Linked DNA regions of Homo sapiens: region 1 is linked to region 2. The links come from fine-mapping of genetic effects on gene expression. A gene starts in region 2. The other region holds a variant in brackets. All regions are shown on one strand. Distances are from middle to middle.

Region 1 (8,422 bases), 110 kb after region 2:
TATGGCTGTCTAGAAGCAGCTACTGTGTGTAGCTCTCATGGAGAGAAACGGGAGGGGTGAGTAAATACAACACCTTCAACTGAAACATCCTAGTATTCACAAAGGGAGTAATCAAGGAAACAACTTGACTCATGGAGAACAAAGAAAACCAAGACAGGACAAAGCCCATCTGGGAGAAACACGGAGACAGGGGACCCTCCCCCACCTAAGGAATCCATGCTTCTTTGACAGATCTTTGCAACCCTTGGGACAGGAGATATCCTTGTGAACGCAGTCTACCAGGGACTTCAGTCTGACAGAGCTACATGGAGTCTTGGCAGAGCAACCACTCAGACATGCGTGGAATCACTGGAGCCTTAGATACTTGGGCTTTCCAGCAAAAGTAGCTGCAGCTCCAGCAAAGTGGGAGGTTAGAACCCTGTACATACCCATAGAAAAGAGGCTGAATTCAGGGGGCTGAGCAGCAACAGCCTGCAGGCCCCAAGTCCATGCTACCTCACAAGATAAGACCCACAGCTTAGAATTCTGGCCAGCCACTGGTACCAGCATTGTAACTCCCTAAGGAAGAGCTCCCAGGGGGACAGGCAGGCCTCCATCTTTACTGTTCAGGTACATTAGCTGTTCCAGCCTTCAGGCTTTGCAGAATCCAGGCCAATCGGGCAGAAGGGATCCCCCAACACAGCACAACTGCTGTACCAAACATGGCCAGACTACTACTATAAGCAGGTCCCCAATCTCATTCCTTTTCACTGGACAGGACCTCCCAACTGGGGTGCCTCCAGCCACCTCTCCCCTAAAGGTGTTCTCTGGCCAACAGAGATTAGTAACTTCCCAGGGATGGAGCTCACAGAGGGGGTGGGCCACCATCATTGCTGTTTGGGTGACTTAGCCATTCCAGCCATCGGGCTTTGGAGTGTCTAGGCAACCAGGGGCTGAAGCAAATGCCCAGCAAAGCATATCTGCTCTACCAAAATGTGGCCAGACGTCTTTTTAAAGCAGGTCCCTGATCCTGTTCCTCCTCACTAGGCAGGATCTCCCAGCTGGGGTCTCCAGCCACCTCCTACAGGTGCCTTTGGGCCAGCAGCAGGCACATACCTCTCTGGGTCAGAGCTCCCAGAGAGAGGGCCAGATTGCCATTTTGCTGCTTCACAGCCTTCATTGGTGATACCTCCAGGTACTGGAAAATCTGATGTGACTAGGGATTGGAGGGGGCCCCAAGCATACTGAAGCAGACCTACAGAAAAGTGGCCAGACTGCTACATGGGTGCTTGTTCCCATATCCCATATCTCCAGGTCTTTCAGGCCTGGGCCTCTAGCCATCCCCCACCAGAGCTATCAAGCCCGTGGCAACTTGGCAACTCCCTGGACAGAGCACCCTGGGTCAACTGAAAGCTTCTCCTGTATTGCTTTATTTTGATTCTCATTCTCCTTGGATTGGAGTTTGCTTCCCTCCTGAATCTCAATGATGTTCTTATCCATATTCTGAATGATATTTCTGTCATCTCAACCAGGTTAAGAACTCTTGTTGGAGAACTGATGCAGTCATTTGGAGAACATATGACACTCTAACCATTTGAGTTACCAAAGTTTTTGTATTCATTCTTTCTCACCTCTGTGTGTAGATGTTCCTTTAACTGGAGTGTAGGTTGAGTATAATCCATAGACTTCTTTCCAGGAGCTAAAGAATGAAATAGCAAGTATAAAAAAGAACCTAACAAGTCTGACAGAGCTGAAAAACACAATACAAGACTTTCACAGTGCAATCACAAGTATTAACAGCAGAATAAACCAAGCTGGGGAATGAATCTCAGAACTTGAAGACTGGTTCTCTGAAACGAAGCAGTCAGACAAAAATAAATAAAAAAGAAAAAGAATAAACAAAACCTCTGAGAAGTATGGGATTATGTAAAGAGGCCAAATCTATGAATCACTGGCATCCCTATAAGGGATGGGGAGAAAGCAAACAAGTTGAAAAGCATATCTTAGGATATCATCTATGAAAACTTCCCCAACCTTCTAGAGAGGCAAACAGTCAAAATCAGGAAATAGAACTCCTGCAAGATTCTCCACAAGAAGATCATGCCCAAAACACATAATTGTCAGATTTTCCAAGGTCAAAATAAAAGAATGTTAAAGGCAGCTAGAGAGAAAGGGCAGGTCACCTACAAAGGGAACCCCATCAGACAGTGCAACTCTCAGCTAAAACCCTACAACCCAGAAGAGAGTGGGGGCCTATACTCAACATTCTTAAAGAAAAACATCATCTTCAAGAATTTCATATCCAGCCAAACTAAGCTTCCTCAGTGAAGAAATAAGATCCTTTCCAGATAAGCAAATGTTGGGGGAATTCATTACCACCAGACCTGCCTTACAAGAGATCTTGAAAATAACACTAAATATAGAAAGGAAAGACTGCTACCAGCTCATACAAAGACACACAGACCAGTGTCACTGTAAAGCAAACAAGCCACCATAATAACCAATTAACAGCACAAAGACAGGATCAAATCCACACTTATCAATACTGGCCTTGAATGTAAGTGGGTTAAATGCTCAATTTAAGAGGCACAGAGTGGCAAGCTGGATAAAAAAGCAAGATCCAATGGTATGCTGTCTTCAAGAGACCCATCTCATGTGTAATGACACTCATAAGCTCAAAATAAAGGGGATGGAGGAAAACATACCAAGCAAATGGAAAACGGCAAAAAGCAGGGGTTACAATTCTAATTTCAGACAAAACAGATTTCAAACTAACAAAGATAAAGACAAAGTATATAATGGTAAAGGGTTCAATTCTACTAAGAGACATAGTTGTCCTAAATATATATGCACCAAACAGGAGCACCCAGATTCATAAAGCAAGTTCTTAGAGACCTACTATACAAAGAGACATAAAGTCTCCCACTATTATTCTGTGGGAGTCTAACATTCCACTGACAATATTAGATCATCAAGGCATAAAATTAATAGATATTTAGAACCTAAACTCAACATTGTACCAATGGATCTGATAGACCTTTAAAGAACTCTCCACTGGAAAGTAACAGAATATACACTCTCTCATCACCACATGACACATACTCTAAAATTGGCCACATAATTAAACATAAAACAATCCTCGGCAAATGTAAAAAGAATCAAAATCATACCAAACACTCTCTCGGACAACAGTACAATAAAAATAGAAGTCAAGACTATGAAAATCGCTCAAAACCATGCAATTACATGAAAATTAAACAATATGCTTCTGAATGACTTTTGGGTAAATAATGAAATTAAGGCAGAAATCAAGAAGTTCTTTGAATATCATGAAAATAAAGATACAACATACCAGAATCTCTGGGACACAGCTAAGAAAGTGTGGAGAGGGAAATTCATAGCACTAAATGCCCACATCAAGAAGTTAGAAAGATCTCAAACTAACAACCTAAATTAAATGGAAAGAATTAAAGAAGCAAGGATAAGTCAACCCCAAAGCTAGCAGAAGACAAGAAATAACAAAAATCAGAGCTGAACTGAAGGAAATTCAGAGACAAACCATTTAAAAAATCAACAAATCTAGGAGTTGTTTTTTAAAAAAAAATTAAAGTAGATAGGCCACTAAATAGACTAATAAAAAAATTAAGACAATTAGAAATGATGAAAGAGATATCACTGACCCCACAGAAATGAAAACAACCATCAGAAACTACTATAGAGACCTCTCCACACACAAACTAGAAAACCTAGAAGAGAT[G/A]GACAGATTCCTGGACATATACACCCTCCCAAGACTGAGCCAGGAAGAAATTGGTTTCCTGAACAGACCAATAATGAGCTCCAAAATTGAATCAATAATAAATAGCCTACCAACCAACCAAAAAAAAAAAAAAAAAAACAAAAAACAAAAGCCCAGAGCCTGATGGATTCACAGCCAAATTCTACCAGATGTACAAAGAAGAGTTCATACCATTCCTACAGAAACTATTCCAAAAAAACTGGGTCGGTTGCAGGGCGAGGACTCCTCCCCCACTCATTCTATGAAGCCAGCATTATCTTGATACCAAAACTTGGCAGAGACACAACAAAAAAAAACATCAGGCCAATATCCTTGCTGAACATTGATGCAAACATTCTCAACAAAATACGTGCAAGCCGAATCCAGCAGCATACCTAAAAGCTAATCCACAACAGTCAAGTAGGCTTCATCTCTGGGATGCAAAGTTGGTTTAACATATGCAAATCAATAAATGTAATTCATCACATAAACAGAACTAAAGATGAAAAACACATGATTACCTCAATAAATGCAGAAACGGCTTTCAATAAAATTCAGTCTCAGCACTCTGGGAGGCCAAGGTAGGCAGATCGCCTAAGGTCAGGAGTTCAAGACCAGCCTGGCCACCATGGTGAAACCTTATCTCTACTAAGAATACAAAAATTAACTGGGCATGGTGGTTGCACCTGTAATCCAAGCTACTAGGGAGGCTGAGGCAGGAGAATTTCTTGAACCTGGGAGGTGGAGGTTGCAGTGAGCCAAGATTGCACCACTGCACTCCAGCCTGGGCAACAATGCAAGACTCCATCTCAAAAAAAAAAGAAAAAGAAAAAGAAAAACAAAAACGAAAAAAAAAAAGTTAAGAAAAAGAAAATAATGATCTTGTGGTTCATATTCTGATATTCTGGCACTCTTTCAGAGTGTAACAAGACCTTCTAATTAGACTTCATATAAACTCTCTACTTTTAAATATCTTCTTTTCTTTTTTTCTTTTTTTAACAAAGATTGGCAGAGTAGAGACATATCTTTAAGGGAGAATCTTCCTACTTAACTAATCATCTGTCCATCTGTCCATCCTATGCCTGTCTTCTTTCTCCTTTTTTTCCCTCAATATGACCACATATTGAACACCTACAACATGCAAAGCATTGTGCTAGGTTGATTCCTATTCCTATTTCCAAAAAGTCTTAGCTGCCCTCTTGGAATCAGCAAACAGCTACATATATAGGATTCTTGGAGTATCCTTTTTCCATTGCTTATAGAAACACACATATGCTTTGCTCCTTGGACTGCTAACCCCACTAAGGAAACACTGTCCCAGAGGGATAGTTCCTTTCCATATAGAAACAGTGATGCAGCACTGAGTAGGCACTCAGTAGTTACTGAATAAATTCATCAATAGCTGTGACAGCTTTCCCCTCTCCATGCCAAACTCCTAAGTAAGCTTTGAAAATCCTTCAAATTTACTTCTATTCCTTTCCATTCTACCATTTTTGAAATGGAAATACGTGAAGGAAAATGGATCCTGAATAATTTCAGCCCAAATTCCTGGAGGAAAATAGTAAGAAAAGGGAAATTGCTACTTATTTGGAGCTGCCCACAAGTTAAATTTTTATGATAAGATAAATTCTCATTATTTCAGCATTACCTCCTTCCTAGTAAAATTTATCATTGGTAGCTACCCTCATTTGCATTATTTAATATGCCCTGCTAGGATAATGTTATTTTTATTTTTTTTCACATGTCAAAACAGAGGCTTTGAAAAATTAAATAACTGGCCACCCAAAGAAGTCACTGGGTCAAAGATGGGGCTAGCATGGGGGTTTGAACAACCTGTTTAAGAAGGGACAGGTGCTGAATTAGTGGAATGTAAGAGTTGGCACTGAGCAATAGGCAAGCCCAAAAGAAAGAAGGCTGACTCACCAGGAAATGGAATTAGCACAAAAGGTCAACTTTCTCTCACAGATAAAGGAAAACTCACAAGTCATATCCCCGACAGGACAAAAACAAAGCCTAGACACTTCAGCAAAAACATAGCATGCCCAGAATATGACTTTTCTAGGAAAACTTTTGAATAACACTTACATATGGGAAAAATGTTTTAAAAACTGGGTACATATTGGGATAGAAAGAATATTCAGGTACGCATTAAGGATATTTCTAGATCTCTTGTCTCCTCTGGGTACAACTAGGTGTACAGAGAAAAATATTTTAGGAGTTTTCATTTCAAAATAAACAGAACAGGAAAATAAAGAATTCATTAAAAGAGTATAAAATTAATTTTAGTTGCAAAATAGTATGACTACCATTTAAACTAAGAAACAGCTCTTCTAGCGCTGCTACTACGGGTTCAATTCATTACAACTGATAAGATGTGGAGGACATGAAAGGGAGAGAAGGGTTGGACAGGAAAACCTTCAGGAAGATGGGGGAAAGCCACTAATAGTCATTGGTTCTAGCAGTCCATTAAAACATTTTCCAGCCTGCTTATTGAAGCTGTGGAAAAACTGGGGACTCATATTTCTCACTCTAGGATGTGGAAAGTTTAAATTACAAGAAGATGGAAAGGGAGGAAATGGCAAAAGGAAGGAACACCATGAGTTAGTTACAGCTAATCTCAATATATGGATATTTCTTAATTTAAGAAATGCAGGGAAAATCAAACAAAACGATGGGGATTATAACCAAACTGCCATGAATTTATGTACCAAAAAAGCTGAAAAAACAGGGCTTTCTTAAAGCTTATACAAATGAAGAGAAACATTAGACTGTGTACTTCATTATTATAATAAATACCCATTGAGCAGGCTGTCTACATAATGCATGTACATATAAGAGGGCAATAAAAAATCAACTGGGCAACTTTTTATTGTCCTCATATATACATAATGGGGCAAGTATAAGTCAATGGACCATTCTGAACATGCCCATATCTAATGAATTGGCAGCTATCACTTAGATATTAGAATTGCTACTATTCATTAAATGCTTCCCATGCTGTGGGCATATTTTAAGGAAATTTACATGTTATTTCATTGAATTCCTCTAGCAGCTCTGAAGTATTGTTACCCTCAGATAGATAGTAGATGAGAAAACTGAGGCTGAAAGAGAGTAATAACTCATCCAAGGACACATGGGTAGGAAATAGAGAAGCCAAGGCTTAAGCCTAAGGATAATTCTCTCAGAGTTCATGCTCTTTCTACTATGCCACACTCTTTCACCTCCATCTTACTCTGGGGTATGATGAGCTTGATGAGGTAGAGAAAGGCTTCTAATGACATGGAAACTAAAGGCAGTACTCCTCAGGAGAGAGGGCTAAATAAGAGTATTTAAGATGATAGCATGGAAAACAGACTGCATGTTGTAAACACCTAGTGCAACGCTTGGCATATTGTAGGTGTTCAATGTATGGTCATGTTGATGGAAAACAAAGAGGAGAAAGAAGGCAGGCATAGGATGGACAGATGGACAAATAGTTGGTTAAGTAGGAAGATTGTCCTTTTCCTTTGAAGTTTACAGGGATCTGTGTGAAAGCCAAAATTTCAAAGAAACGGAGGGAAGCATACACAGCTGAGGTTGTGCCAGAGCTAGGGTTCTTACAGGAGTGGAAGGACATCATCCCATCAGGACATGAAAGTTGGAGACATGGTCTCTAGGACTCCAAAGAGAAGGCATTTTTATCCCTTTGCTCATGCAAGATAGGCAAAGCATTTAAATATTTGGGATTAGAATATATTATATTCTATATATATATATTTTCTGTATGTGTGTGTATATATAAAATATATACTCTCCCAAACTTTTGAAATCCCAAATATGTTAAAAAAAATACATATATATATATAATATATATATGGCTATATATGTAGGGGAATAGGTATGTATATATATAGATAGGTATAGACACAGGCAATTGCAAGATATATATACCTATATATACACACACACCTTACAATTGCTTGTTTTGTCATTTACTTTTGTTAAACTTAAAGCTGTTTCTGTGTTAACTTGTTTGCAAGGATTAGTGTAAGAGAAGAAAGTGATTTTTTGGTTCCTTGTCTTTTCTCATGCCTACTGTAGGTCATGGTAGGCTTTTTTTTGTCAACATTACAATCTGAATTTTTAGCATCATATTGTAATAAGCTTTCCCTTGTTTTCCTGATACACTGAAAAAATTTAAGAGCATTCATGATGCTGTTGAATGTTTCTTTGAAGAAACAGATAACAGGGGCTGGGCGCAGTGGCTCATGCCTGTAATCCCAGCACTTTGGGAGGCTGAGGTGGGTGGATCACGAGGTCAGGAGATTGAGACCATCCTGGCTAACAAGGTGAAACTCTGTCTCTACTAAAAATACAAAAAACTTAGCCGGGCATGGTGGCGGGTGCCTGTAGTCCCAGCTACTTGGGAGGCTGAGGCAGGAGAATGGCATGAGCCCAGTAGGTGAAGCTTGCAGTGAGCAGAGATCAAGCCACTGCACTCCAGCCTGGGTGACGGAGCAAGACTCCATCTCCAAAAAAAAAAAAAAAAAAAAAAATTAAAATTAGAGAAAACCTGAAGTGTTTGGAGGTTTTGATCAGATGTATTCTCAAGTGGAGGGCTTCTATGAAATAGCATAGCTCTAGGAAGGGGCAGTTAAGCATGAAACCCTAGGTAGCATTAAATAGAAG
Region 2 (8,422 bases):
GTGGTTTCTGATTTGCATTTCTCTAATGATTGGTGGTGTTGAGCTTTTTTTTCATGTTTGTTGGCCACGTAAATGTCGTCTTTTGAGAAGTGTCTTCATATCCTTTGCCCACTTTTTGATGAGGTTGTTTGCTTTTTTCTTGTAAATTTGTTTAAGTTCCTTGTAAATTCTGGATTTTTGTCTGATGAGTAGATTGCAAACATTTTCTCCCATTCTGTAGGTTTCCTGTTCACTCTGATGATAGTTTGTTTCGCTGTGCAGAAGAAGCTCTTTGGTTTAATTAGATCCCATTTGTCAATTTCAGCTTTCTTTACAATTGCTTTTAGTATTTTAGAGATGAAGTCTTTCCCCATGCCTATGTCCTGAATGGTATTGCCTAGGTTTTCTTCTAGGGTTTTTATGGTTTGGGGTTTTACACTTGTCTTTAATCCATCTTGAGTTAATTTTTGCATAAGGTGTAAGGAAAGGGTCCAGTTTCTGTTTTCTGCATATGGCTAGCCTGTTTTCCCAGTACCATTTATTGAGTAGAAGAGCCTTTCCGCATTGCTTTTGTCAGGTTTGTCAAAGATGAGATAGTTGTAGATGTGTGGTGTTATTTCTGGGGTCTGTTCTGTTCCGTTGGTCTATGGGTCTGTTTTGGTACCAGTACCATGCTGCTTTGGTTACTGTAGCCTTGTAGTATAGTTTGAAGTCAGGTAGCGTGATGCCTCCAGCTTTATTCTTTTTGCTTAGGATTGTCTTGGCTCTACAGGGTCTTCTTTGATCCCATATGAAATTTATTTATTCTATATTTCCATAAGTTATTGGGGTACAGGTTGTATTTAGTTACATGAGTAAGTTCTTTAGTGGTGATTTGTGAGAAAATACATGCTTTAAAATCTCTTTCAGACATGGGGATTATGATTTTCTCCTAAGTAGTTTACTTTTCTCATATAATAGGAAGTCCAGAGTAGGTGTTTGCTGGCATTGATTTAGCTCCCTGATGCTTCCATCAAAGATCCAGGATCTTTTTATCTTTTAGTCCAATTGTCCTTGTTTTGTTGTCTTTTATCCTTAGGATTGCTGCCTATGGTCACAAGATAGCTTCTGAAACTTCAGTTAATTACAGGATGCCTCATTAAGCAGGAAGCTGGAGGGAATGGGCTATGCCTCTTGTGCCTATCTCCTTTTGTCAGGAAAGCACAATGACAGAAGCCTACCAGGAGACTTCCCTGTACTTCTCATAGCCAGGACTGGACCACATAACTATACCTGGCTGCAAGGGAGACTGGGAAATAAGGAACAAAATTATGACTTGGTCAGTCTAGTCATACTCTATCACCTGTGCCAGGGCACATTGCTACCCCAAGGAATGAAGTGTGAGGGTAAATATTGGCAACAACTAGCAGCATCAGTCTCATAGGGTCGTAGATATATCCTTCTCTACTATGATCTAAGTAGTGCTCTTCTATATAATAGTATAATCCATGCATTCACTAAAAGAGAATTACTTTGTACTCTAAAATTCTTTACAAATGTCAAAAGATGCTGTGTGAAGTATCTTAGTATTTTTATTTATTGATTCTGTGTCTTTTATGTTTGTGGGGGAAAATTCAACTGATTTGTCAAAGATTTGATTACAGATACAGAATACAGTAGAATTATAAACCACCCCTCAAAATTTGTAAATAGGAATTATCATAAAACTTTCATGAAAGCAAAAGATATTTCCAAATTTAAGGTGTGTAGTGTGTTGCACAGGAAATATTGTTGCTCTCACTTTCTTGATTCTATAGCATTTGATAGTGAGCAGATACCAAAGTTTGATTCATATGTCCATGTTTCATCATTCAATCAAGATGTTGAAGTTCATATTTAAAAACAATCTTAATAAATATCTAGTAAACACTTTGTTTCAGGAATCATGCTAGCATACTTGCATGTATATGTACATATGCAAGTTAAAGTCTTCCTTCTCACAACAACAAATTTCTCAGTAACATAGGGTAGGATGTATAAAAAGTCTAAAGCACTAAGTTTGGGGTTTTATTTTGTTTCCAAGACTTGCAACTTGAGTCTTGATATGAAGTAGGAGCCTCTAAATATGGGGTAGCTGGTCTTTTTTAAATAGAATAAAATCAACAAACATAAAATCAAAACGTGCTGTTTTTCTAACTTAGGGATATAGAGACGCAGCAAATATTAGGTAACAATATTTTCCTACTTTTGAGCCAATTGTTTTGGCATCCTGAAAACATAATTTAAGTTACATAGTCAAAAGAAGTAATGCTGTTACATGTGGAAGATATATTCACATACAATTTACATTTCAGTGTACATTCTAAAGACATATGAATCAAAAATGATTGAAGGAAAATAAAGTATCTAGGTTCACAGATATTTATTTTGAAACCATGATCGTCAGGCCTCCATGATAAAGCATGTGCCTAAAAGGTGTTCTGGCTTTCACTTTGGAGATTTGGAAACAGTCTCAGGGACCAGTAACTTGCCCAAATTCTTGCAGGTTTCATAGCCATGACAGCTCTGGCAACCCTAAGGGTCTAAGGGATAAGATTTCTAAATCCACTTCATACAACTAACAGTGGTGCTCAACCATGACTCACATTAGAATCACCTGGAAAGCTTTTTTAAAAATACTAGTGCCTGGCCTCTACCCTATAGCAATGAATCCAAATTTTTGGTATTGGGGTCCAGGCATTGATTTTTTTTTTCTTTTTAAATAAAAACACTCAAAAAGCCAAAAATTTCCTCAGGTAATTTTATTACGCAGTGTAGGTTGAGAAACACTGATTATGCCATAGACCTGAGAATATGATTAATTGGGTTGTTGAATCAGGGTGATCCATAGCTAATGGGTTCTCAAACATTCAGTTCATGTGGTATTTCATGACCTGAAAGCAAATGCAGACAAGTTTTTTGTGTCTTATTTGAAATGCTGTTGTCAGACAGTATCATCTTTTCCAGCTATTCTTCTCTTTTCATTTTCAGGTGACTCATGCGGAAGAGTGTGCTTGCTTCATGTTGCAACTTAGTCCTTCACATGGTTGTCCCAATGCCCCATTTACCTTTGTGGCCATTGGCACAGCCTGGAAGTTTAGAACAATGCAAGTCATCTTGACATCTAAAACGTGATTTCTGGTAATGCCTTAGGAAGTAGTTTCAGGTTAATTTGTATTTCCAAACCGCCTCGGACTCCTTCCTGAAACAGATTAAAAACTGCGTATTGGCAAAGAGTGAGGGGAACTAGGTGAGGGGGATTGGGCTAACACTGGCTCCTTGTGATTAGTCCTGATTTAAATGCTGGAAATGACAATGGAGTTTGTTTATGGCTTTTCTCACCCTGAAGATATCTTTACAGGAATATTTATTTGAACACTAACTGGGTAAAGATTTACAGGGGCTCAAACAATTCTTTTTCAAGGAGCTGAGGGCCTAATTTTTATCATACACATCAATACATTTTTTTCCTTACAGGAAATGTGTGGGTGTCTGGGCTTTTAAAAATTGTATATCATACTCTTCTTTCTTGCCTCAATGTTGCTTTGATAAAATGATTTACTTGAATCTTAAACTGATTATTTACCAGCTATAGGACTTGGGAAAAATTGCTTAACTCCTATGAGACTGGGCACAATCATCTCTGAAGCAAAGACAGGGTTATCTGTGGCTTATTGTGGTTGCAGAAATTAAAGAGATAATTTTCAAAAAGCACCTAGTACAAAGTCTGGGTTAGGTAGTTCTCCAATAAACATAATTTATCCTCTCTTCCTTCCTCTTCCGTCAAACAGAATATATTCTCCAGAAGAACCTGATATAAGTGGTGTGTACATAAATGAGAATTTGTCATTTTTTAATTTCCTCGAGTATTCTGTAAGAGTAGACTTTAATAATACAGTTTTATAATACAGTAATACAGTTATAATGTTTGCCATGTGCTTTACTATGAGAGTTGTTGATTGGATGGCTTGTCTTCTTTGGTAGAATTCAGTATCAGTGAGTGGAAAGGTTATTTTTGCATGTGGTTGGTCAGGCAACAGAGAAGTCACTCCATACAAGCAGCTTTCTACTCTGCATACAAGGTAGATCCAGTGGAAGTCACGTTGAGTGATGTGTTTGTGCAAACAGCAGTTAATGACCATGTAGGATATCCCATCATCAGAGCTCTATCCCAGCTGACTCAGAGTAGGATTAATCATGAAAGCCTGGATTTAGATGTGTGTCTGAAGATACATGTGTGCTGGGAAAGAAATTAGGCTGGACTTTTATAAAAATTGTTACAAAGAAGCAACAATAATTAGAATAGAAAAAATGGCCTTCAGCCATTTAGTGTCCTGGTAGACATGAACCAACACAGCCCACTTCAGGCTGGCAGATGTGAGAGAATCTGTGGAAGGGAGGCTTGAACCGTCTTGAAAATATTTCCCAAAGCCTCTGCTGCTGGGATACTGGTCAGAAGTGCCCCAAGTCTGTTTATCTGGAGACATGGAACGCTTTATTCAAGGACCTGTGGAGAGAAGGCAGACAAGACTGTAGAGTCTGCACTCTCATCCTCTTGAGGGCACACCTTATTTACAAAAGGAGATTTAGATTACTTGATCCCATAAATCTTGGCATAGAGAAACTCAAAGCAAATATTTATTCTACAAGGATGGGTTAGCAGTGTTAAGGTACTGAAATTTACCTTGTACAACTTTAAAGAAGTTTATTGAGTTGTTAATGGAATAGCATTACCTATGATTAACTAATGTTGAGAAACTGTTGGCAGGTTCCTGGTAAATATTTAACAACACTTATGAATCAGACAACAGAAATGGAATAAAATTCCAAAAAAGCTGTAGTTTTTTCATTTGGCTTGAAGTCAGTATAGAGAAGTTATTTAAAATAAGATTTTCGTCCCACGGAATTGTCCCCTTTGTTATTGTATATCCTTCAGGTTTATGGGACAGCACTAGAGGAAAGTGACAGCCTCAGAGGACCTTCAGGTAAGCTGGCTCCATTTTGGTGACATACATATAGAGGCATAAATACCTGGTTTTTACTGAGAATACCCTGGATAATTATTAAATTGGATTTGGACTAAGGAAGAAAAGGTCTTCTTGCTTTTCATTTTCTCTCTCCACATGAATGTATGTATGTGTGTGTATGTATGTATGTTTTTATAAAAATATTTGAAACTTTGAGCTCCTGAAATCCTAGACTTGGCTTCCTTGAACATGATTGTTTTCTGTTGAAAATTCTTTTCATGCCAATTCTATCTGACTAGTTTCAACTCTTCGATAACCAGGAGTCTGTAATAGATGATGTCATAGGGGTCTAGAATATTGGCATCTGACTTCAAACAAGAGATCAAAACTAATTTCGAGACAAGTTCCAAGTGTGTTCGCTAACTGCTATAAAGAGCACTAAACATTCATGATTCATTTAACTGTGTCTACACCACATAGAATGAGTGGAGACTTGCTACTTTTCTAGTCATTTATTATCCACCTATGCTGACAGATCCCATTAATCAGACTAGTTGGTTAATTGACAGATCTCCATTTTGCTTTTTGTTTATAGATAGTTCTGGTGTATAGATGCCAAACGTGGTATTCTATCATTGTGCACGATTCTTAAGATGACTTTTGGCCAGTCTAAACACTGCCTAGGAGTTGTTTATCATGCTTGATTTACTACTCCTCCTGAAGCATGTATACTATTAATTTCTGCTTGAGAATTTCCAACAAAGCAAACATTTACACAAAGAGGGTGATTCCCTTCTGGCTGTAGGGATGGATCAAGACAGTGGTACCAAAATAGATATGACTGTGTCCAAGTTCCTGAGACTTTAATCACATTTAATCACTGTACAAGTTGTGCTGGGAGGAAGGAAGATGTGGTGTCTCTCTGTGGCTGCACAATATATCTTGTCAACTCTTCAGCGAAGCTACGTACATGGCTGCAATAAAAGGGCTACCGTGTGTGTGTGTGTGTGTGTGTGTGTGTGTGTGTGTGTGTGTTTGTATTTTTCCAACTTCATTTACCAGTTTTTAGTAGAAAGCCGTATTTTGTGTATTTAAAAACACTGAGAATTGGGCAAGGCAAAAAAAAAAAAAAAGATGTTAGGATAAAGGAAAATTTCCCACAGGAATTACCAAGAATTTATCCCACAGAGGAAGTCCTTCTCAATTGCTTCTTGCTCATGGAAATATTTTCACCTGCCTTGCCAAGGCCTTGATACTGATATCTGGAAGGTATTAAGCAATCCAGAAAGTTTATTCATCAACTTTGATTCATCTTAATAAGAGAGCTTAGAAATCAAAGTTATTTCCCTCCTTCCTGCAAAAAGTTCAGGATTTGTAATGCTAAATGGCTTGCTCCCTACTTAGAGCAAATACTTTAGTCAAATTTGATATATTGACTCATAACCCACACATTAGAGCCAAACATGTCCTGTTATGAAAAATTAAGACTCTCTCGACACACAACTTGGCTCTGAATTTGAACCCAATAAACAGTTTTTGTTTAAATGCTCCATTTGAAAAGTAAATTAAAATACATTAGAATAAGTGTTTCTGATTCTCAAAGATATCACTGGATCCAGGGCAAAAAATCCTGCACATGTTGGGCTTCCTCTCTGAAATCAATGCCCTTCCTTAGGGCTTCTGAACCAATGGATATGAATTTGAGGCTGGGGTAATGGCTGTGGTTGTTGCAAAAAAAGAAGAGAAGGGAATTGAGTCTGTCTTACAGAGGCAGATCCTGGTCTAGTATGAAGAGCATCATTGATGCTTTGAATTGAACCTGAACTCTAACACCTCAGAAACTGCCACAGTTCTAACCATTAGAACCAAAAGATAATTGCCCAGATGGATGCACTGTGCATGATCTGCAATCATAGCCTTTTGATAACTATAAATCAGCAATACTAAAAATACTGCTTTTTTTAACCAAAATATTTGAGATCCAAGGAAGAGCAGACTAGCAGCTAACTCCTAATAAAGGCAGGCTTCAAAGAAGTTACCCAATCAGACAATATGTTGCCCAGTTTTCTGCAAGAAAAAAGGTCTCTCAAACTTAAAAGCAGAGTTTTTTTCCACTGAAATCAAGAGAATCCTTTAGGTTATGGGGACATGATATTAATTATTTGGGGAACTTTAGATCTTGGCTATTTTTAGACTTACTTTTTCTGTATCTTTAAAAAAGTTTTCTAAATAGAGATGCTTTCATTTCTTGTAAATGTCAAAGCCACACTGCAGCTGTCTGCCGTGTCCTCAGAGGTGCTTGCTCCCTGCTCACTTTCCCTGCAAGGTCAAGTTGACCTTTGAGTGCTAAAGCCAAGGGAAAGCAGGCCCTGGTTAGAAGCAGCTAGACTGTTACTGGCAAAGTTACCATATGGCAGCAGGCTCTGCTTAGCATGGAGAAGAAATAGGAAATCATGGATTGTAGAAATGAGTTTGAAGCCCATGGAATCTGGGAATCAATTGTATATTCATTGAGTAACTCAATGTTGTTTTCAGCACGAGTACCTACTATGTGCCACACACAATTCCACACTGTTTCTTACTGCCTTTGGCCTCATAGACTGTTATGCCTTGTGTCCTTCCTTTACCGCTACTAGCAGCAGCATGGCCTAATGGAAAGTAAGAGGGGTTCAAATAAGAGCCCCAAATTCATATTTGAGCACTGACCTTCACTTGTATGACCTTTGGCTACTTAAATTACCTGAACCTGAGATTCCCGATTTATAACACAGGAATACAAACATTGCCTATATTCAAAACCATTGATATGCTTAGTTAATTTTAGCTAATGATTTTTTTCTGGAGTTTTTAGACATGAGAAAAATATTTAAGGGACATGGCAGCGGTAAAGAAGAAATAAACAGATGTAAGTTTGGAAAATAGTATTTGTGAGGGGAAACCAGAGGCCAGATATGGCACAGGCAGTTTATGAACCAAGGTGGGTGGGTTGGGTTGCCTGGGAAAGGATTTTAGAGGCATACTGCTAAATGAGTCAGTTATATCCAGAACTGGTGTCCAGTCCTTTCTGCCCTGACCCAACTTTATGTGGTTTGATTGATAATAAAGCAGTCATTTTGATCCTATTTACCAGAACCACCTGTAGCAAAACAGAGCCCATCCTTTGTGCATGAGGTAGAGTAGGCCTGTACTCTTGGTGAGAGGACAAGTGGTTTGAGTAGAATCATTGTTCTGCTCTGAGCTGGGAGATTTCTATCTAAGGCCCGTGGCACCTGAATTAAAGTTGGGAAGTATGCAGCAAGGTACTCTTGAGCATCACCTTTTCTTTTTGCCAAGGCTGCGTGAGTGTTCATAAAACCGAGAAACAGGGTTAGATGGGCAGACTCTTGGAAGGAGATCAATAAATGCCTGTTTTTCTTTTGCTAAATGCTTCCTTTGGCAATTTTTATCTTTTCATGTGC

Direction of the effects. Positions count from the first base shown, and alleles are read on the strand shown. Sizes are in standard deviations (SD) of each study's normalised expression.
In carriers of allele G in region 1, the expression in testis of the gene that starts at base 4,825 in region 2 tends to be higher than with A alone (small effect, 0.29 SD a copy in GTEx).

What was found. PIP is the estimated chance that this variant, and not a neighbour inherited with it, causes the effect.
Region 1: its variant is fine-mapped to the expression of LINC02889 in testis (GTEx, PIP 0.95).

The regions. Positions count from the first base shown.
Region 1 is chr7:17,442,137-17,450,558 of GRCh38, reverse strand. All of the region lies in intron 1 of LINC02888 (long intergenic non-protein coding RNA 2888), which reads right to left. The region is part of intron 4 of LOC105375172 (a long non-coding RNA gene); the gene reads left to right. Among named protein-coding and RNA genes, the nearest start is that of LINC02888, 71 kb to the right of the region's middle. The variant G/A (reference allele first, on the strand shown) is at 3,737.
Region 2 is chr7:17,555,312-17,563,733 of GRCh38, reverse strand. LINC02889 (long intergenic non-protein coding RNA 2889) reads left to right here and starts at 4,825. Exons shown (of 4, transcript NR_110013.1): 1 at 4,825-4,982.